3 separate regions of the Homo sapiens genome follow, and all the other regions are linked to region 1. Evidence: fine-mapped expression QTL. A gene starts in region 1. Each other region holds a variant in brackets. All regions are shown on one strand. Distances are from middle to middle.

Region 1 (7,997 bases):
TGTGTATTGTTTTCAGCCGCTAAGTCTGCAGCATTCTGCCAACAGCAGCCTTAGGAAACCAATACAGATAGAACAGTCAGCTTTTTACTTTGGGGCACAGGCTCGGTGCCTATGGACGGTACAGCACCAGGAAACTTAGGAGGCAGAACCCACCAAGTGGGAGTGTGGCAGCTCACTCAGTAAGGTCCTGTGAGAGATATTCTAAGCCCGGAGCAGGCCATCTGAAAGCAAAGAAAGCAGAAAACACTTCCCGAGGAACCCAAATGGCATTGCAAATCCAGCCATCCTGAAATACTATCCCAATTTTTTTTTGTTTGTTTTTTTGAGGCAGGGTCTCACTGTTTTCTAGGCTGGAGTGCAGTTGTGTGATCCTAGCTCACTGCTGCCTTGAACTTCTGGGCTCAAGTGATCCTCCTGCCTCAGTCTCCTAAGTAGCTAGGACTAAGAGTGTTTACCACCATGACTGGCTAAAAGAAAAAAAAAAAAGTTTCACAGAGATGGGGTCTCCCTATGTTGCCCAGGCTAGTGTTGATCTCCTGGTCTCAAGTGATCCTCTCGCCTCAGCCTCCCAAAGTACTGGTATTATAGGTGTGAGCCACTGTGCCTGGCCTGCTGCACTTTTGTTTGCCTTATCATGTAGTTCAATGTAGCTCAGTGCATAGCACAGTTCAAACTCAATAACTATATTTTAATGTATTATGAAACATTTTATACATGTAAAAACTCATAAAGAATATAACCAACACCTGAATATAGCCCATCTGCCTTAGGAAACAAAGCATAATAGCACAATTGATCCGCTATGAATGAATTCCTTCCTGTTCACAGTCCCCACCTGTACCTATAGGCAACCACCCTCCTGAATTTATCTTTTACCATTCTGGTTTTTTTTTTTTTTTTTTGAGATAGGGTTTGGCACTATCGCCAAGGCTGGAGTGCAGTGACATGATCACAGCTTGCTGCAGCCTCAAACTCCTGGGCTCAAGGGATCCTCCTGCCTCAGCCTCCTAAAGTGCTGCGATTACAGGCATGAGCCACCATACCTGGTCGCATTCTCATCCTTTAAAAGAAAATAGTACTAAATGGTATCATACCATGTGAATTAATATTCAACTTTTTCTCATTCAACACTGTGGAGTCAGGTGCGGTAGTGCTTGCATCTGTACTCAGCTACTCAGGAGGCTGAGGTGGATCACTTGAGCCCAGGATTTTGTGGCCAGCCGGGGGAACATAGTAAGCCCCATTTCAAAAACAACCCCACAGTTTGCAAAATTCATTTATGTTGATGTATGCAACTAATGTATTCATTTTTACTAACTTATGGTATTCTACTGCATAACTGTGTAGATTATCGATTCTGCCATAGATGGCATTTTGGTTGCTTCTCCCCCAGACCCCAACTACCACTAGAAGCAACGTTGCACTGAACATTCTTGTGTTTGCACGCATAGGCAAGGTACTCTAGAGCACATACCAAGAGTGGAATTGCTAAGTTATAGAGTATCTTTGCTAGAAATTGCTAAGTGGCCATCCAAAGTTAGTGAATGAACGTACACTCCTACTGGCAGTGCAAGAGAGTTCTGCTCTGCTCACAAATCCACATCCTTATTAAGTTTGGTAAAGACAGGTTTTTAAGTTTTTGCCAATCTGTTAAGTGTAACATGGTATGTCCTTAGTTTTAATTTGCATTGCTGCTCAATACTTGTTGCAAAAATGAATAAAAAATGTTCCATTCCATACCTCTGGGATTTGAGAATCTGTCCCAATTCCTAGGTCCCATATGTAGACTCCAACATCTGTATTACTTTGGCTTTCAAAACTGGCCTTCTACTCAGACTTTCTTTTTCCATCTTCACGTTTCTGTTGTGATCCTAGTAATCCTTTGCTTAGCTGGTTTTGAAGCCTTCAAGTCAATCTCAGCCTCACTCCTTCGCCTGAAAACAGTAGCTAGCAAAGTATACGGTAAGCTATAAAAAGCACCCGGATCTAAGGTGTAACCAGTCACTAAGTGCTGCCAGTTTTTCCTCTGTCAATTGTTTCAGTTCTTCCTTCCTTTCCCCTTCCATCAGGTTAATCCTGCTGTCACCTCGCTCACTGGTTCTTGCAATAAGCCAGACTGAGCTGGAAAGAACCGCCATGGTCCTCAGTGTTGTCTGTAGGGGACCTCACTGTCTGAGGCTGTCAGGGCTCTGTCAGGAGGAGACCCCTGGGGCCTTCTGAGCCCTACTAGGAGAGGATTCTAGGAGAGTAGGACGCCTTGCACATAGTAAGTACTAAGTCAATGTTACTTACCAGTAAATGAAGAGGCATGGGAAATTGTTATTATTTTTGAGACGGAGTTTCGCTCTGTCGCCCAGCCTGGAGTGCAGTGGCACGATCTGGGCTCACTGCAAGCTCTGCCTCACGGGTTCACGCTATTCTCCTGCCTCAGCCTCCAGGGAAATTCTTAATCAGAAAATATGTCTTAGATTTTTGTTTTAAAAGAGAACTGGCAGGAGCTCCAAATACACTAAAGCTCCAGTCTGAAATGACAGTCCCTGAGCATTCAATCTTTGGTCTAAGAAGCACAGAAATGTAATGCAAACCAGACACGGTTTTTTTAGTGATTTTCTGCACACACACACACACACACACACACACACAGTAAAAAGATCTAGTCATAACGTGTGCACCTGCAGTTCCAACTACTGGGGAGGGTGAGGCAGGAGGATCACTAGAGGGCAGGAGTTCGAGACTAGCCTGGGCAACATAGCAAGACACCCACCCCCAGTCCCCCCCGGAAAAAAAGAATAAAAAAGGTAAAAATAATTTTAAAAAGAGTAAAAGGAATGTAAAAATAATTTTAATGCATTTTATTTAATCCAATACATTAAAAATGTTACCTAACATGCAAACAATATACAAATTATTTTATACGACGTCTTTGGAATCCTGTATTTTACACGTAAAGCGCATCTCACTCCGGACTAGCCAGGTTTCAAGCACGTGATAGCCGCACAAGGCTGGAACCCAGGCCTGGGGAATTAATTCTTGTCCTCGGTGCTCAAACCATTCTTCCCTTCAAGCCTGGCCTAATCCCCAGTCTCTCTCATCTCTTCGAATACGCTCCGCGGTTATGCCCCTCACCTCACTGCACTGCAAATATTTCGTCCACTGAGTATTTGCTGATCGTCACTCAGTGCCGGGTGACCCAGCTTGACCAGCACCCGCAGCCGCCCTGCCACTGTTGGGCCGGGTATGGTGTGTCTGGCTTCCCTCTGTTCTGGGCCGGCTCCGAAACGCGCTCAAGAGAAATCGGAATCAGACACGGGGCAGTTCAGCTTTGGAAATGAGGAGCTCGAGGCTCCTGGGAGTCCGTTGCGGGCAGGTGGGCGCCGCTGTTGTGTCGGGAGAGCCAGGAGCGACAGACTCAAACTCAGAAACCCAACCACCTCCGCTCCCTCCGCGATGCGTGTAACGTGCGTTGCGCGGCGTCGCCCTTTAATAACGACGGGCGCTCGGAGTGCTGCGTCACTCGCCACCAGGGACTTAGGCGGGACTTCCGGGCGCGCGTAGGCACAACTTCCGGAAGGAGGCGGAAGAGCTTCTCGGCTCTAGGCTCTGGAGTCCCGGGAGCAGTGAGGGGCCACCCGGGGCACAGGAAAGGGCCGCTAGGGGAGGGCCGGGTGCACTCGGGGTGTCTGGGCCGCGGGTCTGAGGGATGAGGAGGGGCCATGGCCAGCGACGGGGCCAGGAAGCAATTCTGGAAGCGCAGCAACAGCAAGCTCCCGGGCAGGTGGGTGTGCCGCGGAGGGCCAGGTCGGGGTCAGGGGTCAGAGGTCAGGTGGCCGCGTTGGCCTCCTGGGCTGCGGGTGGAGTCGGGGGTCTGGAGAGGGCAACTTGGACTCTGAGGAGACTGCTGGATGGTGTGACGGGCGTTGGGGGGCTCGGAGGTCGGAGCGTGGGGTCTGGGGGTGACAGTGGCTGCACGTAGGATCGAGGCTTGCAAGGACGAGGAGGAGCTATTGGCGTTTTTCCTGACACTGGCAGGCTTCTTTCCGAGAAACTCCTGGGCTCCTTGGGGAGGCTGGAAGGAACTGATTCGGGTCATGCTGTGAAGTTTGGTGGAGTCCGGAAGCTGGCCGGGCTGAGGCCCCCCGTCTGCTGGGTGGATCAGTTTCTGCAGGGGGTGTGGTGTTTTTGACCCACTTGATTTGCCTGTGGTCTCTTGAGGGCTGCGGCTCTTGCCTTGAGCATAGAAGAGGACTAGAGTTTCCCTGTGAGTTTCCATGTTTCTGCTTGCTGGTGTCAAAACCACCTCCTATGTTGTGTTAGCAGGAAGTTTTTTTTTTTTTTTTTTTTTTTTTTTTTTTTTTCTTCGGCTGGAATGACCTGGGTACACCCTAGATGCTATACAGCTCCAGAGCTCCAGAGTCCTTGTCTGATTGCTGTGGCGCTGAGCTATGCCAGGGCCCTAGGGAATGAGACATTACGTGGAGGGTACCTAGGATAAAATCAGCCACTGGTGAAAACAGATCAGAGATAAGCAAACGTCAAGATTTCAGAACATAGTTCTGTTCCAAAGCTGAAGTCTGGAATGCTGAAAATTATGAATTGTGTTACGAAGATAAGTCTGAGTAGAATCATTCATAAACACAGTAAAATGGTTTGTACTCCTGTTTCATAATAAATATTATTGTTTGAGTGTTTGAATGATAAACTTTGGAATTTACTGCATCCAGTTAGAAAAGTTTACTTTTGGCCAGGTGTGGCGGCTCACGCCTGTAATCCCAGCACTTTGGGAGGTCGAGGTGGACAGATCACCTGAGGTCAGGAGTTTGAGACCAGCCTCACCAACATGGAGAAACCTAGTCTCTACTAAAAATACAAAATTAGCTGGGCATGGTGGCACATGCCTGTAATCCTGGCTACTTGGGAGGCTGAGGCAGGAGAATCACTTGAACCTGGGAGGTGGAGGTTGCAGTGAGCCGAGATCGTTCCATTGCACTCCATCCTGGGCAATAAGAGCGAAACTCTGTCTCAAAAAAAAAAAGGAAAGTTTACTTTTAAGAGTGATCTGGGGGTTAGCAGCGTGAGTTACTGACAGCTCAGACAGTGGCTTTGAGAATGAAGGGAGTCATCAAAGGTGGCCGGAGACCCTATTCGACTCCACAGGACCGTGCTTGATTCGAGAACAGTAAGACCTTTCAACAAAACCAGTGTCAGGGTCCAAGGTGAGTGAAGATTCTGGAATGGTGGTGGGTAGGAGGTCCTGGTAGTGACAGGAACAAATGCTGTAGAACATAAGAGTCCAGGGAAGAGGAGCCACATGACAGTGTAACTTTTATGTGTTACTTTTAGGTCTTAAGGTTTTGGTTCCTCATCAGTCTAAACTCTAATTCTTAATCAGCTTAGATGTAAGAATAACAGAGCTGCTGTGTGGAGTTACAGCAGTGACTCAACCTTTGGATTGAAGGCTGTGGCTCTTGGTAATTTGTCCTTATACTGAGTTGAATTTATGTCCATCTGGAAACTATGGATGTGACATTTGGAAATAGGGTTTTTGCACAAGTAATCAAGGTAAAATGAGGTCATACTGGATGAGGGTGGGCCTTAGTTCGTCAACTAGTATTTTTATAAAAAGAGGGAAATTTGAATACAGAGAGACACACACAGGGAAATGGCCCTATGGAGACAGAAACAGAGATTGGAATAGTACATTTACAAGCCAAGGAAAGCCAGGGGTTGCTGGCAGCCACCAGAAGCTAGAAGAGGCAAGGAAGGATGCTCACCTAGAGACTTGACAGAGAGCATGGCCCTGCAGATGACCACTTGATTTTGGGTTTTTGGCGTTTAAAACTGAGAGAGAATAAGTGTCTGTTGTGTTAAGCCATTCAGTTGGTGGTAATTTGTTATGGCAGCCACAGGAGACTAATACAGTCTCCAGCTTTCTTCTGTGTGAACCTGAAATACCGAACACCAGCTTTCCTTTTCCTCTGACTTTGATGCTATTCTGTGTCTTAGGCACTTTTGAGAGCAGCTTCTGTATTACCTTTGTGAAGTTGGAGTCTTGGAGAGTTCGAGGCTGTCACTGAAGAGGGCAGAAGAAGAAGGAGAGGTTGGGTGCACCAGGAAGGCCTGTGAAGCCTCTGTGTCTCCCATCCGTCTTGTGGCTCAAGCCTCTGGCAGTGCTGCTCTTTCAGGTGGCAGGCTGGAACTCTTCCCTGAAGGAGGAGTCACAGAGGGGTGCCCGTTTTCCTATCAGTAGTGGTGATTGGTCACTAGCTGCGTATTTATTTAGTCCACACCTATGCAAGCACAGTGCTAGTGGAGATCCTAGCCAGGTTCCTGTGGCTTTGGCAGCTCTTTCAATTGTTTCCCATGATTGTTTTCTTTCTTTTTTTGTTTTTGTTTTTGTTTTTGTTTTTTTTGAGATGGAGTCTCACTGTGTTGCCCAGGCTGGAGTGCAGTGGTGTGATCTTGGCTCACTGCAACCTCTGCCTCCCAGGTTCAAGTGATTCTCCTGTCTCAGCCTCCCAAGTAGCTGGGATTACAGGCGCCCACCAGCACGCCTGTCTGTTTTTTTGTATTTTTAGTAGAGATGGGGTTTCGCCATGTCGGCCAGGCTAGTCTCGAACTCCTGACCTCAGGTGATCCATCCACCTCAGCCTCCCAAAGTGCTGGGATTATAGGCGTGAGCCTCCATGCCTGGCCTTGTTTTCCTCCTTTTTTTTTTTTTTTTTCTGAGACAAGAGTCTCTCTCTGTAGTCCAGGCTGGAGTGCAGTGGCATGATCTCAGCTCACTGCTACCTCCACCTCCTGGGTCCCGGTTGAAGCAGTTCTCCTGCCTCAGCCTCCTGAGTAGATGGGATTATAGGCACTGGCCACCACGCCCAGCTAATTTATGTGTGTGTGTGTGTGTGTGTGTGTGTGTGTGTGTGTGTGTGTGTGTGTATTTTTTTTGAGACGGAGTCTCACTCTGTTGTCCAGGCTGGAGTGCAGTGGTGCGATCTCGGCTCACTGCAAGCTCCGCCTCCCGGGTTCACGCCATTTTCCTGCCTCAGCCTCCCGAGTAGCTGGGACTACAGGCGCCTGCCACCACACCTGGCTAATTTTTTATATTTTTGGTAGAGACGGGGTTTCACCGTGCTAGCCAGGATAGTCTCGATCTCCTGACCTTGTGATCCTCCTGCCTCGGTCTCCCAACGTGCTGGGATTACAGGCTTGAGCCACTGTGCCCGGCAATTTTTGTATTTTTAGTAGAGATGGGGTTTCACCATGTTGGCCAGGCTGGTCTTGAACTCCTGATCATGTGATCCACCAGCTTCAGCCTCCCAAAGTTCTGGGATTACAGGCGTGAGCCACCACACCCAGCCTTGTTTTCCTCTTTGTTTTTGAGTGCAGCCCTCATCTCAAGGAAACTCAGGAGGAAGACTACACCCACTGTACAATACAAGACTAGTAAGGGATCTTTCAGATAGTTCAACTCTTTTTTATTTTTGAGATGGAGTCTCGCTCTGTCGCCCAGACTGGAGTGCAGTGGTGTGATCTAGACTCACTGCAATCACTGCCTCCCGGGTTCAAGTGATCTTCCTGCCTCTGCTGCCAAAGTAACTGGGATTACAGGCGCCCACCACCATGCCCAGCTAATTTTTTTGTATTTTTAGTAGAGATGTGGTTTCAACATGTTGGTGTGGATGGTCTCGATCTCTTGACCTCATGATCCGCCCGCCTTGGCCTCCCCAAGTGCTGAGATTCCAGGCATGAGCCACCGTGCCCGGCCCACACCTCCTGTTTTTATGCAGCCTGAACTAAAGTCCCCCTTTTTTGCATCAAACTCAGTGTTGTTGGTGCCTCTGGCTTCCTGTTCTCCCTGGTATGTGCTTGCTTTCACTAGTGAGATCCACAGGTTTAGGAAAAGTATCTTTCTCATTCTTGCATTGTCAGTACCGATACCTGGTGTTTATTCCGAACTATCTCCTCGATTAGCCTGGAGAGTGAGTGGTTTGGCCAGGGCT
Region 2 (7,997 bases), 410 kb after region 1:
GTGGCCCCTCTGCCTGCCTGGTGTGGGTGATGCAGAACAGCTCTTGGCTAATAAATGTGCCGCGTTTCCCAGACAGGAGACGACGTGGCCTAGTGCATAAATAAGACAAGCCTTTTTAAAAAAGAAATCTGTATTTAAGGATGTGTTTGGCTGTGTTCTTCTCCTCCCGTAAAGGTCACCCAGATAGATTTTTCCTTCTTTAGCATTGCAGGCTGCGAAGAACTGGGCATTTCTATTCTCCCTCCATCCAGTGAACCTGGCGGACTAAATTAGATTCTGAAATTGAGTGTGCAGTAGAGTCGGTGAGTTACCGTAATGGGAGGGTACTGCTTCTCACCTTGCAAGGAGCGAGGTCATGATAATATGAAGCGAAGTGGATTAAAAATAAAACCAAAGGTATTTATTTATGACCTGCTCAGAATTGGATTGGCATCCATGTAAGTTGCATCTAATGGTGAAAGACAGCAGATTGATGTTGATATGTCCCCAGGGACTTTTAGCCAGTGAAATTCGCTCCCTGAATTCAATTTAAAGGCCCACTGAAAGTATCCAAAATGCGAAAGGAAATGGAATTGAGGAAGTGGGGGTGGAAGCCCAGCAACTGCGAAATAGCAATTGGAAGACGGTCCTGGTGTGTAACCCTCCTGATGCAGGACCGGAGAGAGGACAGTCCTGGTGTGTAACCCTCCTGATGCAGGACCAGAGAGAGGACAGTCCTGGTGTGTAACCCTCCTGATGCAGGACCGGAGAGAGGACAGTCCTGGTGTGTAACCCTCCTGATGCAGGACCGGAGAGAGGACAGTCCTGGTGTGTAACCCTCCTGATGCAGGACCGGAGAGAGGGCAGTCCTGGTGTGTAACCCTCCTGATGCAGGACCGGAGAGAGGACAGTCCTGGTGTGTAACCCTCCTGATGCAGGACCGGAGAGAGGGCAGTCCTGGTGTGTAATCTTCCTGATTCGGAAATGGAGAGCGCAGCTCCGGGATGGCCGGGGGGCCTGCCTCAGTGAGGGTGGGGCAACATGCAGACGGCAGCCTCCGGCACAGCCAGGATGTGAGCCCAGGTCATCTGTCCAGGCTCTGTGCCTGCACAGCTCAGCTCATCCTGGCTGTGCCTATGTGGAGAGCCTGCCATCCTTATCTCCAGATGAAGAAGAGTGTGGCTTGGAGAGCCAGGCCCACTGCCCAAGACCACCTGGACAGGAAGACAGGATGTGAACTTCAGAGCCCAGCTACCCCCCATTCCCCTCCATGCCAGTCTTGCTGGGCTGCGTTTTCTCGAGGCAGGCGACATGGGCATCCCGAGCCTGTGGCCCTCCCTGTCCCTTGTCACCTGCTAGGAGTGGGGAAGGGCAGTTCCAGCACCCTGAGGGCTCCTCAGCCGCCTTCCTGACTTCCTGGATCCAGCTTCTGTTTGGGGTGGGAGGTAGGAGAAGCCGGGGAGCCTGCAGGTGGCCCCCTGGGGGCAAATTCTCGAGGACCAGAGCCCACAGGGCCATCTGAGCAGTGTAGACCCCTCCCTCAGGGAGTCTGCCCAGCTTCATGACAGAGCCTGGGCTTGGGCTGGCCCTGACCTGATGGTCCCCTGTTTCTCTTCTGAGAACCCCCACTGCAGGAGGCTGTCTTGGCCACTCAGCCCTCTCTGATCCCTACTTCTGCCAAGCCCTCTGTGTGTTGGGGTCCCCGGAGACCTGCCCTGCCCTTGGTGGGCTGCCAGCAGCTGTGGATGTGGGCGTGGTCATGTGGGAGGGCGGGGCTGTCAGGCGGTGGTCGTGGGGGGTCCCCCGAGGACCTGTGCTTTTCCTTCCCCGTTGTGGCCTCAGTGGACGTAGGTCAGTCTCCATCTCCTCAGTGTCCGCATCCCGGCCTCCAGACCATGAGCTCTGGAGACAGTCGCCCATGTGTCTTTTGGGGGTGGGACTCAGTGCCCCCATAGCCCATCTGAGACACGGCCCAGCTGCAGGCCAGAGGAGCCCACCCAGCACTCCCAGTAAGCCCAACGCACCTGCCCAGTGCGCCCGGTGAGCCCAGTGTGCCTACCCAGCACTCCCAGTGAGCCTACCCAGCACTCCCAGTGAGCCTACCCAGCACTCCCAGTGAGCCTACCCAGCACTCCCAGTGAGCTGTGTGCTCACCCAGAGTGCCCAGTGAGCCCAGTGAGTCCGGTGTGCCCGCCCGGTGTTCCCACCCAGCATGCCCAGTGAGCCTTGTGTGTCCACCCAGTGTGCCCGCTCAGTGAGCCTGGTGTGTCTACCTAGCATGCCCATGGAGCCCACTGTGTGCCCACCCAGTGCTGGCTGTACTGCTGGCCGTATGTGTGTTTTCCCAGTCTGTCCAGCAGCCCTGACAGTAATTTACTACAGTAAATAAAAATTTGTACTATGTGAATTCAATGCAATAAATGCTGTGACTGGGAAGTAGAATGGGAGAATGAAGGGTACAGGAGGCGAGATTTTAAAAATACACATGTAAGATGATTTTATCCACACTGAACGACTTATAATTGTTGCTTATTCCCTATAGTTCCCTATTTTCCTACTTACATGCATGTCATTCACCTTTATGTAAAACCTTTTACCTCCTATCTTTACCTATGAGAATCCTACCTGAATTTTAAGAGTCTGATCAAATGTCACTTCCACAGAAAGGCCTTCTTTGGTTGTAACTGGAATTAATTTTTAAATCTCAGTCTAAGGCAAATAAGCACATTAGAAAGCAATAAATAAATAAATGGTGGCCCCATTTTGCAGAGGAGGAAGCTGGGCCTCGGGGTGGAGTCATTGTTCCAGGGCACCAGGTTGGACCTAGACCTGAAGCTGGGTTTGGTGGAGCCCTGCACCCCAACCCACTGGTGTGAGGTGGTCATGCAGGAGGGGCCAGTTGGCGCTTTGCTGTGCTCCTGGGCTCCCGGGGTGGGCCTGAGCCGGCTCCGTTCTGTGATCCCCTCGTGTGGGCTTCATCTGCTGATGGTGCTGGTGCCCGGAGGGGTCTCCTGGTGCACAGAAATCTGTGCTTAGTGGCAGTTCCAGGGGTGCTGCGGTACTTCCTGGGCTGATACAGGCTTTGTGGGAGTGGGAAGCTCCTGGGCGGAGGCTGCAAAGCTGCAGCAGGGCCCCGAGAGCTGGGTCTCCCCCTGAGGGGCAGGGGATTCAGTTAAATGAAGCTCTGGGCGGCCCCTGCCACGACATCTCAGATGCCGGACTTGGAGCTGCGCAGTGGGCCTCCTGCCTGGCTGCTGGGATGGGGCGGTGGCCGTGGGGCGAGGCCTGGGGCCCTTCTGGGGTTGAGCAGGGAGCAGCTGCCGGCTGGGCAAGTTTTCCTGGGTCACCCACCCTCCACTGTGGGTCACCTCCTCTGACCTGGGCTTGTGTCTTTCTCTCCAGTTTTCCTGGATCACCCGCCCTGCACCGTGGGTCACCTCCTCTGACCTGGGCTTGTATCTTTCCCTCCAGTTTTCTGGGGTCACCCGCCCTCCACCGTGGGTCACCTCCTCTGACCTGGGCTTGTCTCTTTCTCCCCAGGAGCTGCTGCTCTTCCTCCAGAACCTGCCCACAGCCCACTGGGATGATGAGGACATCAGCCTGTTGCTGGCCGAGGCCTACCGCCTCAAGTTTGCTTTTGCCGACGCCCCCAATCACTACAAGAAATGAGCCCAGGCCCACCCGCAGCTGGCCTCACTGTCCCGGGTGGCGCGCCCCACCTGCCTGGCTGGTGGTAGGCCCCTGTGAGCTGGTCCCGGGCTGCTAAAAGGCCTTGTGAGGTGGCCCCACCCTCCAGGGGAGCTGGTGAAGATGGGCCACAGACCTGGTCTAGGGCTGACAAAGACAGGGACAGCCTTTGTTTTCTGAGATACCAAAGAGAGCCAGGGGAGGGCCCCGGGTTCGGCGGCCAGAGGCAGGTCAGGGGTCCCCTCTCCCTCTCCCTGCAATGTCCTTGCCAAATGACTGCCTCGTGCTGCCCCTAGTCCGGGGCAGCCTAGGAGGCCGACCCTCTTTGGAGTCCTGCTGTCTGGGTGCCAGGGCCGGAACGAGGTAGTGGCCATCTCATACCTACTCTGAAATGCAAAACTTCTATTCTGTTGAGTGAAAGAATAAAATGTAGACAAAATCTAGACCGAGACGTTGCGCTGACCCGGGGTCTCTGTGCCGCGAGGTCCCCTCACAGCTGTATTTCACTGCTGCTGGCCCTTTCCCTCCGTGTGTTTTCCTGCTTGCTTGGTTTAAACGTGGCTGGGAAGCTGAAGGCTGGAGTCCAAGCCGTGAGCCCGCCGAGTGCCTGGGAGGCCGTGGGACCAAAGGCTGGGAGCAGAGGGAGGCCTCGCCATCGCCTTACTTTCCACCTTGAACCTCTTTTACAAGAGAGAAACCCCCACCTCCCTGAGGTCCAGGGCCAAGTGGCCCCGCCACGCAGGTAGGCGCCGGCCTCAGCCAGAGCCCCTGGAGGCCCACCCAGGCTGTCGGGCCATGTTGGGCTGGCAGACGGGCAGGGGGTCGCGTCCCTGTCATCAAAGCCCTGAACCACAGTGCTCTTCTCACCGCAGCCTGGAAGCGGAATGAGCTTTTGGAGACTTCCTGGGACTTGCTGTCCTTGTCCAGGTCTGCCAGGTGTAGGGGAGGTGTGACTGGTTCCATCATGGACCGGTTCCTCCATGGACCGGTTCCTCCGTGGACCGGTTCCGCCATGGACCGGTTCCGCCATGGACCACTCCTGCCCTGGACCACTCCTGCCCTGGACCGGTTCTGCCGTGGACTGGTTCCCGCCGTGGACCAGTTCCCGCTGTATACTGGTTCTGCCCTGGACTGGTTCCCGCTGTGGACTGGTTCCTTGGGGCTCTAAGTGCGGAAGGGCCCAGAGCTGGTCCCTGCCCAGCGCCCTGCTAGGGCTGTGTCCTTGGCTCCAGGGGCCTTGGGACTGGCTTCCCAGC[G/A]TTCCCTCGGTGTGTCACAGGCTGCATGACCCCTGGAATGCGGGCAGGGCCACAGCCACAGTCTGTCTGATCCCTGAGCCCAGGACAGGCTCACGTCCTCAGCGACCCACTGGTGACTGACTTCCCAGACTCTCCTCTGTCCCTCAGGAGCAGCCGTGTCCTCTCCCAGGCCCTAGGACACTGCCAGAGACTGTGGGACATACAGGCATAAGTGATGTGTGTGTTTCTGCTTCTGTTTTAAAAATCCAGGGTCATTACACACAGCATGGAAATTAGCACAAAATGCTGTGCAAACGTCAGATGCTCCCAAACCAGCAAAGGGATGGGCTTGCTTCACATCAGATGCGGGCACGCCTTACCCCTGCCTTCCGTGTCCCCACCCCAGGGTCAAGGGTTCCTCAGACCAGCCATGCCTCCTCCTCCTGCCGCCTCCTTTTCTAGATGGGGAGGGGATTCCGTCACAAGAAGAGCCGCCCCTCGGCCGTGTGCAGGAAGCCCCATGTCGCTTTGCCGAGATCAGCCCTGGGAGGATCCCCTTCTCCAGCTCAGATCATGCCGTGTGGCCAGAAGGCTGCGGACACAACTGACCTGCTTCTCGAGGTGGTTGATGTTTTAAACAGGAAGCTCCACGGAGTTCAGCCCTGTGTGCATTTCCTCATGTATGTAAACGCCAAGACTGAATGTGAGAGGTGTTGGCCGCGGGCCTTAAGTCTGAGCAGATCCATCTGGAATGTTCGGGGTGTGCTGTCTGGATGTGGTGCGCTAAAAACACGGAATAAAGATCAGTGACAAAGCCGCGGCCTTGGCCTGTGATTCGAGGACTTGCCCATCGAGGACAGGGGCACCCTGGCCCAGCCCTGCCGAGGGTCTGAGCTCAGGGCCATTGCGGCGCACCAGCGTGGGCCCGGCAGCACCCGTGATCTCGCTGCCCCCCGCAGGACCTCTCAGGGAGATGGGGCTGCAGCTGCTCAGGTGGTGCAGGGATGCCACTTGCCCGGGCGGGGCAAGACTCAGAAACCAGTCTGACCCCCGAAGCCCGGCTCTGCACTAGCTGGAACACGGGAGTGTGGGGTCCAGGCTGGCCCCTGTCAGGCTCCTGAACAAGGGACCTCCCCTTGGGCCACATCTGTCAAGCACCTGCTTTGAAAAGGGCTGTTCCGGGGTAGGCACCAGGGTCTGGGGTCCCCCCCGCCTCTCCTGGGATACACTTGCCTCACCCTCACCCACACACTGAAACACCCTCCTTGCCCTGTGTTACTGAAGCAAGGCCCTTCAAAGGGCCTCAGTTTCTCAGGGCAGCTTTCCAGGTGCGCCACACCCCTCTGAGTAACCCCGTCTGGGTGCCCCACCCTCAGGTACCCCACACCCCCCTGGGTGCCCCACCCTCGGGACCCTCCCTTGGCAGCACTTGGCTTTCCACTGCCTTGTGCTGTCCGCTGACGGGTGTGGGGTGTGCTCCTGTCCCCGCGGGTGTGGGGTGTGCCCCTGTCCCCGCGGGTGTGGGGTGTGCCCCTGTCCCCGCGGGTGTGGGGTGTGCCCCTGTCCCCGCGGGTGTGGGGTGTGCCCCTGTCCCCGCGGGTGTGGGGTGTGCCCCTGTCCCCGCGGGTGTGGGGTGTGCCCCTGTCCCCGCGGGTGTGGGGTGTGCTCCTGTCCCCGCGGGTGTGGGGTGTGCACTACTGACCGGCTGTGGGGTGTGCTCCAGTCCCCACGGGTGTGGGGTGTGCTCCTGTCCCCACGGGTGTGGGGTGCGCACTACTGACCAGGTGTGGGGTGTGCTCCTGTCCCCGTAGGTGTGGGGTGTGCTCCTGTCCCCACGGGTGGGCTGGTGGCTCCACAAAGTGGGAGTAGCCTCTTCACCTCTCTTTCCACAGTGACCCAGTGCGGAGCTGAGCCAGGCAGGGCTGCCTTCCTGGGCCCGGTGGCCCGGCACATGGGCTGACCTCACTGTTGCCTGGCTGTGGTCTGCAGGGTCGTAGGCTGCAGGACGGAGATCGGCTGTCCCCAGCAGCCACCAGGTGTTCAGCTCCTGACTCCAGGTCACAGCCCAGCAACTGCCATTCACCTTCACGATTCCCCGGAGTTTGCAGCTCAGCAGTTGGCTCCTCGGGCCCAACTTGAGGTCTTCACAGCCTGTGCAGACTCTGCTCCTGTGGGTGGCCCGAGCCCAGGGGTCCTGAAATCAATCCCTGACCTGTGGTGGCTGCTGTCCTGTGCACCTCACCCTGCCCGGTCCCAGGGAGAGGCTCGGCCTGCTGGCACCACTGCTGTGCCCTTGGCAAGGTCAGACGCGTCGGGGAGCATTGGGGTCCTGGGGAGTAGGAGATGGAGAGTCTCTGTGGTTTGTACTTTTGGAAGAACTAGGAGGTGGGACGCTTCTGTGCCGTGTCACCGATGGATGGAAACAGGAGGAATACTGTCTGTGTTCAAGCAGACCCACTCCGCTGAGGACTTGGGGACAGGCTGCAGAATGACACGCGCCATCGCAGGCTGCAGCATGCCAGCCTCCATGCCGCCGTCCTCCAGAGCTGGAGGCTCCTCGTCAGCCCTGTGGCCCCAGTGATCTGCTCTCGGCCGCAGTCCTGGGGAGTTTGCCCAAGACTCAGACCCCTCGGGGTGTGGACCTCCCTGGGGCCTTCCCAGCCCCAGTCCACCCCACCGTTCCTCTCCTCTCTCAGCCCCAGCCCCTTGGCTTCCTTCTGGCTCTGCACTTTGCCCTGCGGGATTGCGGGCTGCTTGGGGTGGCCCCCACTCAGCTGTGAGGCCTTTCCACACCCACCCTGCAGCTCCTTGGCATGGAGGGTCCCCAGCACAGGATGGCCTCCACCCAGGAGGCACACGGCCGCTTACATGGTCCTGTGTGAGTGACCCAGCCGTAGTCCATTTTGTTGACAAGATGAGGCTGGCTATTCTTTCTTTTTTTATTTTTTTATTTCTTGAGACAGGGTCTTGCTCTGTGGCCCAGGCTGGAGTGCAGTGGTGTGATCTCAGCTCACTGCAACCTCTGCCTCCTGGGTTCAAGTGATTCTAATGCCTCAGCCTCCCGAGCAGCTGGGATGACAGGTGCCCGCCATGACA
Region 3 (7,997 bases), 210 kb after region 1:
AGAGACCATTCTCTCCCCACAGTGGACTCTGGTTTTGTATATCAGCATCTAACAGATAGAAGCCAGGGAAAACCTGCTGATCTTGCCTGCAGTTCCGCCTGGGCCATACACCCAGGGACAGGGCTCCTCTGGGTGGCCTTGGACCTTCCCAGGCTATCTCCCCAGGGGCCAGACACACCAGCCCGTGGGTATTTTCTGCAGCTTGTCCTGGCCCTCACCCCGCTGTCACAGCCTGGAGTCCAGAGTGCCCTGTGCCACTCTGTGTGCCTTTGCCAAAGTGGGGGATGCTTTCTCTGGCGGGGGATATTTATCTCATTCTAACAATAAGGGTAATTCCAATTCTCCTGGCGTTTAGAAGACAAATCACCACGGGGGCTCTCTGAGTTAAATGCCATTACTTCATTACCTTGAAGAGTAACAAATGGCCCATTGTGAGAAATGACACCTAGAATAGGCCACTGACATTTCCTCAGATAAAATAACAAGCCAGCTAAACAGACCAAGAGAGCGAGGCTCCTGCCTGGCTCACGCGGCGCCTGGCTCTGCGAGTCGGAGCTGCCACAGCCCAGCTGCATCTGTGCACTCAGGCAGAGGCTGTCAAGGTCTGGGAGGCCTTAGTTCCCTGTTTACTCTTATTATCTCTGAGGAAATGTCTCCATGCTTGGAAGGCCCTTGAAAGAGGATACGTCGATGGGAAACTTCTCAGAGGAAGCCTGCTGATGATTGCTGCTGATTCAGTTCCCTGAGAAGAGGAAATAAAATCAGACCCACTCTAGGCCAGCAGAACGTTGAGTTGATTCTGCCCAAACTGTTTTCCCAGGGAGGAAGTGATGCCAGGGGGAGGCCACTTACCCTCCTGTCTATTTGCTTGGCTTTTGCTGCCGGTCCTTCCAGTAGGAAAGGCGTTACGAGGGGGCTGGACTTGGAGTCGAGGCAGGCCTGTCCTGCTCACTCCCACCATTGCCTCACAAAGCACACTGATCAGCGCGTGGAGGCTTAGTTTCTGCATCTGTGAACCGGCAGAAATAACACCTCCCACCTTGGGCTGCCGTGGGAAATTGGGAGACAGGGCCTTTCCCTGGGAGTCCCTGTGGGGGCTTCATCAGAGGGTGTGCTCAGGTCAACCCGGGCTCCTGCGCCAGCAGAGTTTTGAGACCAGACACCTTGCCACTTGCTGGAGGGAGAGCCTGCAGCCCGGCAGGGAGCCGGTGGGTGGACAGAACCACCAGGAGAGTGCTGGTGTCATGGGCACACCCGGCTGGGAGGAGGGTCAGGGGACAGAGCCATGGCCAGCCAGCAGCACTTGTCATCCTAGCCCCGCATTCGAGGAATGGGGAACTGGGACCTGCCTTTTAGGGTGAAAACATGGGCCAAGAGAGTGAGGGCCTGGTTGCACCCGGTATGCTGTGGACAATGGTGTCCTTCACAAGCCCGGGTCCCAGGAGGAACCCATCCATTTCCCCATGCCACTGGGTGACTCCGACACCTAACATTGATGTTTCCAATCTTTAAAGTCGCTTGTTTTCCCCTTTAATTCATGAGCATCTTGAGGGCGTCAGGTCTCTCACTCATGTCTGTGCCTGGTGCCTGGTGTATAGGGACAGATCCCGCCCACGGGACCGGCTCTCTGTGTCCACATTACCCCTTGGTGGAGACAGCCCAGGGTCTACCAGCCGAGGCATGCAGAGACGCGGCGTGGCCTGGCCGTAGGGGTGCGGCTCAGTCGTGAAGAGGAGTGAGGCATTGACACGGGCTGCCGCATGGATGACTCTGGAGAACATTGTGCTCAGTGAGAAGGAGCCAGTCACAGAGGGCCGCAGAGCCTGATTCCAGCAGTGTGAAATGTCCAGAATAGGCAACTCCATAGAGACAGAGGCAGGTTCGTGGTTGCCAGGCGTGGGGTGGGGAGTGGGGAGCGGCTGCTGAAGGGTCCAGGGTTTCTTTCCGTGGTGATGCAAAGGCTCTGGAACTAGCGGTGACGCTTGTGACCCTACTCAAGACCACTCTGTCGCACACGCTAAAGAGTGGATTTTATGGCGGATGAATTATCTCTCCGTTTACAAAACCCAGAACCAAATCAAAGCAATACCCATGGAGTGACTGAGGGTCCACCCCCAGCACCCCAGAGAGAGGAGTGATGTGCGAACTGGCTGGAATCCGCCCACCCTCCCACGTTCCCGCAGGTCCCGCCATGTTGGATGTGTCCAGGGCTGTTGCCTCCCTGTCCAGGCCCTCGAGCGCCCAGCTGCTCACTCCTGCTGGAGGGTCAGACACGGAGGCGCTCTTGCCCTTTTATCCTGCTGGTTCTGGGGTGAACCAAGAACCGTGGGAGGTGGCGTGTCACCTCGTCTCTTCCAGTCACACACTTCAGTGTGAGTTAGCAATTGTGCAGGGCTGCGACTGGGGAAGCAGCGCGATGGGATAGGACTGTACACGACACGAATGTGAGGTGGGCCTCTGGGTCCTCAGGGAGCACTTAGGGACCTGGGTTCTGGGACCAGTAGGTGGGGCTGCATCTGGCACCCCCCTCCCCATGTGTACCAGGCTGCTCGGCATAGCCACGGCCCTGCCCCTCTTTACCCCGCTGTTGTCCGGGGCTCAAGGGTGGTGACAGCAGAGTGGTGACAGCTGAAATGAGCACGCACATTCACAGTGCGCAGGAGAGGGCCTGGCGCGTCAGCAGACCCCGGTCAACACCAGCGGCAGCATCATCCGTATCAGGATTGTGATGTTTATCTGCTTCAACCTTTCTACATATATTCTGGGTTGAAATGTTTCTTTTCTTAAAGAACGTTTTCCTTGCGAAGATGCCATGCAAATAAAACTAAAGTAAAAAAAAATTAAAAATAGGGAAGATAATTTTTAAAACATTTATGAGTATTTTGCTGGATGACAACAGTTTTGTAAGGATCTAAAATTAGTTTGTTCAAATATCTGATAAGCCATTTCAATTAGGCATCTGTTTTGCATTTTAAAAACTTTTAGATTGTGTTTTCTCATTCGGTTTTTTGTACTTTAAGAAGGAAATTATTTAGAGCGCCATTGTCTGTTCTATCTTTGACGCACATCTGTGGTACGGCTTTCTGGGGTTTTGATCATAGCATGGAAGTATTTACCCAGTGCAGTTTTGGAAACTCTAACTTTGGAAAGAGGTTTTTAGAGGAATTATTGCCAAATGAATATGTAAATATATCAGAAGCAGAGTTTTCAAAATCTTAGGAAAAAACTTTCAGATCTGTTAGGATTAAGTAATATATTCTATTTTCTCTCTTATTAGAATGTGAAATGCCTGAGAAGCAATAGTTTATAATGTATTAATTATGTTAATTAATTGGAGAAGATTCAGAATATTAATTATCTGCAACTAATTAGGTGTTAAGATTGAGAAGCATTAAGTGATGAGGTGGAAGGCTGCATGAGTCATTTAGCTAGACTGATGAGAGTGGGTGGAGGGAGCTGGATGCAGGCTCAGCTCTGTTCCTCCGTGGGCCCCCTCGTGGGTCGAGGTCCC[G/A]TGTGGCTAAGTCTCCTTGTCTTTTGCATGCTCGGCGCCGCCCAGAGGCAGAGGAGGTGGACACGGTGGACGTCTCCGGCGTGCCCGCAGAGGTGCTGTGCAACATCGAGGCCGACACCTACTGGTGCATGAGCAAGCTGCTGGATGGCATTCAGGTGAGCGCCCGCGCCCACGGGACACAGCCCACGCCCACAGCCCCTGCGGTGAAGAGAGCCTGAGGCCTTAGGCTGCTCCTGAGTCTCAGTGTGGCCATGCAGTCCCTCCTGAAGCCTCACTTTTCTACATCTGGAATAGCACAGACCCCTCCGGGTTGACGAGGGGTGAGACACAGTGTATGTGCCCCTCGTTCTGGGCACGGTCACGTGTCCTGCTGAGGGCCCAGTGGGAAGGCGAGGTGCAGAGTCTGATCCCCTGCTGCCTGCAGACTGTAGCCACCACCACCAAATAGGGCACAGGCTCACGGTAGCTATGTGTGTGTGGCTAGCTGTGCTAAGAGGGATCCTCCTTAAAGGGCCTCAGATCGGGGGCCACAGCTCCTGGCCTCTGACACCAGGCTGTGAGCCCTCGCCTGCAGTATTGGTGGCCAGGGCTCCAGGTGCGTGGGGCGCTGCAGCTGTGCCTGCTCCCAGAGAGCAACACGAGCTGGTGGGAGTCCCCTGCACCACAGTGGGGACCCTGCGGGTCTCTGCATCAGCTAGGGTTAGTGGCTGAGATTTCTGTAGAAAAGCCACAGGTCTCCCAGTGACGGCCAATCCTATGGCATGGTGTAGGGGCAGATTCCCACACAGTACCTGGGAAGGACCTTGTTGGTAGGTGAGTCAGGAATGAGGACTGGAGCCAGCTGATACTACAGAGGAACAGCTGAGGGGGATGGATGGGCCCTGGAGTGGGTGTGGGCGTCTTAGTTTATTTGAGGCCAGTACATCCTTTCTAGACACTCGCTTCCTGTGAGGTGCTGTGCTCCACACCCGGGCATAGTGGCGAGTAAGGGTGAGGCCTGCTCCGGAAGCTCACTCGGGGTGGAGGGTAGACGGGTGAGTATGGCATGAGGGGACAGAAGGCACTCGACCCCAAAGACCCAAAGGTGGGAAGAAGTAGATTACAGGGGACAGTGAATTTTGCTGACAGAGCAGGACTTGTCAGATAGAGGAGGGTCAAAGCCCAGAGCGCGGTTTGGGTCGGTAATCGTTTTCTGAGGGACCAAACACCAAGATCATCACGGGTGTTCGCATGTAGATGGCTCTCTGCTGAGAGCTGGGGCCTCCCGGGAGGGTCTGCATGTTCTGCCAGCATCCCTGTTATCCCAGCTCAAAGGGGGGCCCTCATCTGAGAGACACAGAGATGGGGTTGTCACTTGACATCTGCATTGCCTAGCAGGGCTTGGCTTTTCCTGAGCCATTGCGGTAAAGGTTGTTCCTGATACCACTAAGTGAAGAGGTCTCAGCTCATCTACTTGATTCAGAATCATCAGAATATGGCTTTTATAGCCTGTGGTCTAAGGTTTAGACTCCAAGTTTAATTTGAATATATTAGCTAAAAGGTTCCGTTGAGGAAAGACGTGTGGTTTTTGCTGTTACTTTTCATGATGTAGGAATGAAAAAGGAGAAAGTAGAAGCCTGTTGTGCGGTTGGAGAATGGAAACCTCGTATCTATTGGCTGGTCCAGACTCCTCGTGACTTACTTTGTTCCTTGCAAAGAAAAATGTGCCCACTAGAGATATATTTTGGCCCAAGCACCAATTTGTCATTTCCCCTCCTTTACTAATATTTTCATACATTTTATTCTTTCTGCTAGATCTTTCGGCTTTTTGCCCCCTTAGAAAAAGGATTGAATCATAATGTAAAACTTTATAAATTTCAAATGTCGCTTCTCTGATGGTGAGTGATGGGACTTGTGCCATTTAAATACAAGATTATCTGCCCTCTATTTGTAAATAAAATCTGCTGTACAATGAAATCGATGCTGGCTTTTTCATTTTTCACCTGAGATTTGTGGTCTGATGCAATGGTTTATTGGCAGGGCCGATGAGTGTGAGGGATCATGCTTTCCTGGCGCGTGTGTTTATAGCACATCACCGTCCCGTGGCAGCCGTTGATCTTCTCTCACGTGCCACGATGGATTCCACATGATCCTCCCAGGAGCAAGAGTTGAGGGATGTCAGTTCCCACCATCCAGGGGACTTGGCAGCTCAGCTGTGATTCCTGTAGATAAGGCCGTCCGAGCAGAGCTCCTCTAGCGACTAGTGTTTACAAGCACTGCCGCTGTTTTAAGTTCAGAGAAGTATGAGGCTATGTACTCACTTAAAACCACGGCAACACGCAGACCGGCGTGTCAGCTCCCGGACGACCTGGCCGCTTCTGCCTCTTAGCTCCTTTTCCTACTCTTGGTCTTACTGTCTCCATTTCATTCTTTTGGAACTGCTCGAACCATCTTCCTTAAGCACCCTCTTCACCACATCATCGCCCTGATTGAAACCCTTGGGGAAGCTCTCTCTTGGTTTTCTGAAGTGCAGGCTCTCAGCCCGGCCTCCACCAGTTGTTCCCAGCGTTCTTTCAAGGGCGTGTTTGTTCATCGGCTCTGTGGCAGCCGTCCACGCCGTTGCTGCAGAGGCTTTATTGGAGCCGCTGAGCCAGAACTGTGTGCTGGGGGCTCTTCCTCACCAGGAAGAGGGTCTTCAAGGGCCTCCTAGCCCCACAGTTTCTGTGATTGGTAGGCAGTCCCCATGGGAATGAATGTGAGGAACTAACATTGTCTTCGCCGTGACGGTGCTTCTTGGCGTGGGCATTCCCGGGACAGGTTGGAGCTCGGTTACACCCAGCACACAAGGCTGAGACTAAGAGAGATGAAGCCCATTGCCCAGGTGACGTGGCTTGTATTAAAACCCACGTTGACGGCTCTGGGATCTTTCCTAGCTGAAATACATAGAAGTGAGTCCCATTTGCAGGGAAGTTCTAGAGGGCAGAAACCACATCTATTTTTTTTACCTTTGGATGTCCTGGATGGTCATAACTATGTTTTTGGCTCACTTTGGAGCCTCAATTTGAGATTCCGTATTCTACTTGTTTTCAGTAATTAGTTAACTTTGTCATTTTGGCCGAGATGTATGAAGCACCTGCCTTCTCTCTGCAGGTGCTCAGAGAGGCGGAAGACTTTGGGGTGAGTCAGCATCACCCCTCTGTCCCCAAGAAGCTCAGAGCCTGGTGGGATGGAGCAGGGGGAGTGGACAGCTGATGGAGGCGAGGACAGAATGCTGGGAGAGGAGGCTCTTAGCCCCCAGTAAGATGGCAAACTAGGAAAAAGAACAAACCACTTTTCTCCCGACAAATCCCTGGAAACGTTAGGTGATTGGTCTGTTCTCGCACTGCTTAAAGAAGTGCCTGAGACTGGGTAATTTATAGAGAAAGAGGTTTAATTAGCTCACAGTTCCACAAGCTGTACAGGAATCATAGCTGAGGAGGCTTCAGGAAACTTTCAATTATGGCAGAAAGTGAAGTGGAAGCTGGTGTGTCGTACAGGGCTGGAGGTGGAGGGAGGGGTTGGGGGAGGTGCCACACACTTTTAAACAACCAGATCTCATGACCCAGCGACGCAGCGCTAGCAGGGATGGTGCTAACCCATTAGAAACCGCCCCCAGGATCCGGTCACCTCCAGCCAGGCCACGCCTCCAGCACAGGGGATTACAATTCAACATGAGATTTGGGTGGGGACACAGATCCAAACCGTATTAGCGGTATTGACCAAAGATTGTTTAACACGCATTGTGGGACTCCTTAACAGCAAAGAGAGGTCCTCCAGGAGCGAACAGCGCTGACTCCACTGGCTGGAGGGAATTGTCAGGCCAGCTCATGGCTAGGAGTGCAGGCTCTCCTGCCCTGGCGAGGTGTGATCACAGAAGCCAGTCCTGCTCAGGGAGATCAGGTGCTGCCCAGAGCAGGGACACGGGCTCTGCCATTGACATGCCCAGGCCTGTGTGCCTTGGGACTCTGCACTACAAACATTATTGAAGAGCTTGAAGAGCTTTTGTTTGTGTGGGTTAATTCTCTTGATAACTGCCATGTTGGAAATTCAAATAGAGAAAATTAAAAATATTTAGTAATTTATTTAACAACAACAATGAAAATCCCATTACATATTATTATAAGTAACATTTTTATGATAGATTACTATTTTTCGAAACAAAAATGTTTAGTGAGAAGAAAGGCATTGTTTTACATTTTTGTAAATCTCCTTAATGTCTAACTTAATAGAAGAATTCTTGTATCTACTTCTACATTCAATTTGTTGTGGTATTTTTTGTTTTAGCTGAAGAATGTGAAGAAAATCCAGCATTACATAGATACATAGTTGGAAAAGGAAGCGTGTTTTTTGTTTGTTTGTTTGTTTGTTTTTTGGAGATGAAGTCTCCTCCAGGCTGGAGGGCAGTGGTGCGATCTCAGTTCACTGCAACCTCCGCCTCCCAGGTTCAAGCGATTCTCCGCCTCAGCCT

The links. PIP is the estimated chance that this variant, and not a neighbour inherited with it, causes the effect.
Region 2: its variant is fine-mapped to the expression of TBC1D22A in lung (TOPMed, PIP above 0.99).
Region 3: its variant is fine-mapped to the expression of TBC1D22A in whole blood (TOPMed, PIP above 0.99).

What each region holds. Positions count from the first base shown.
Region 1 is chr22:46,759,074-46,767,070 of GRCh38, forward strand. It overlaps TBC1D22A (TBC1 domain family member 22A), which reads left to right and starts at 3,577. Exons shown (of 13, transcript NM_014346.5): 1 at 3,577-3,775. The coding sequence starts at 3,714. TBC1D22A-DT (TBC1D22A divergent transcript) reads right to left here and starts at 3,455. Exons shown (of 1, transcript NR_186691.1): 1 at 2,838-3,455. RefSeq lists enhancers at 2,624-3,458, 3,195-3,324, 4,025-4,104, 5,035-5,104, 5,145-5,224 and 1 more and a silencer at 4,225-4,284.
Region 2 is chr22:47,169,979-47,177,975 of GRCh38, forward strand. TBC1D22A (TBC1 domain family member 22A) reads left to right here. Exons shown (of 13, transcript NM_014346.5): 13 at 3,520-5,715. The coding sequence ends at 3,648. Among named protein-coding and RNA genes, the nearest start is that of TBC1D22A-AS1, 260 kb to the left of the region's middle. RefSeq lists enhancers at 1,276-1,775, 5,873-6,963. The variant G/A (reference allele first, on the strand shown) is at 4,923.
Region 3 is chr22:46,970,734-46,978,730 of GRCh38, forward strand. TBC1D22A (TBC1 domain family member 22A) reads left to right here. Exons shown (of 13, transcript NM_014346.5): 9 at 3,557-3,666. Among named protein-coding and RNA genes, the nearest start is that of TBC1D22A-AS1, 59 kb to the left of the region's middle. The variant G/A (reference allele first, on the strand shown) is at 3,512.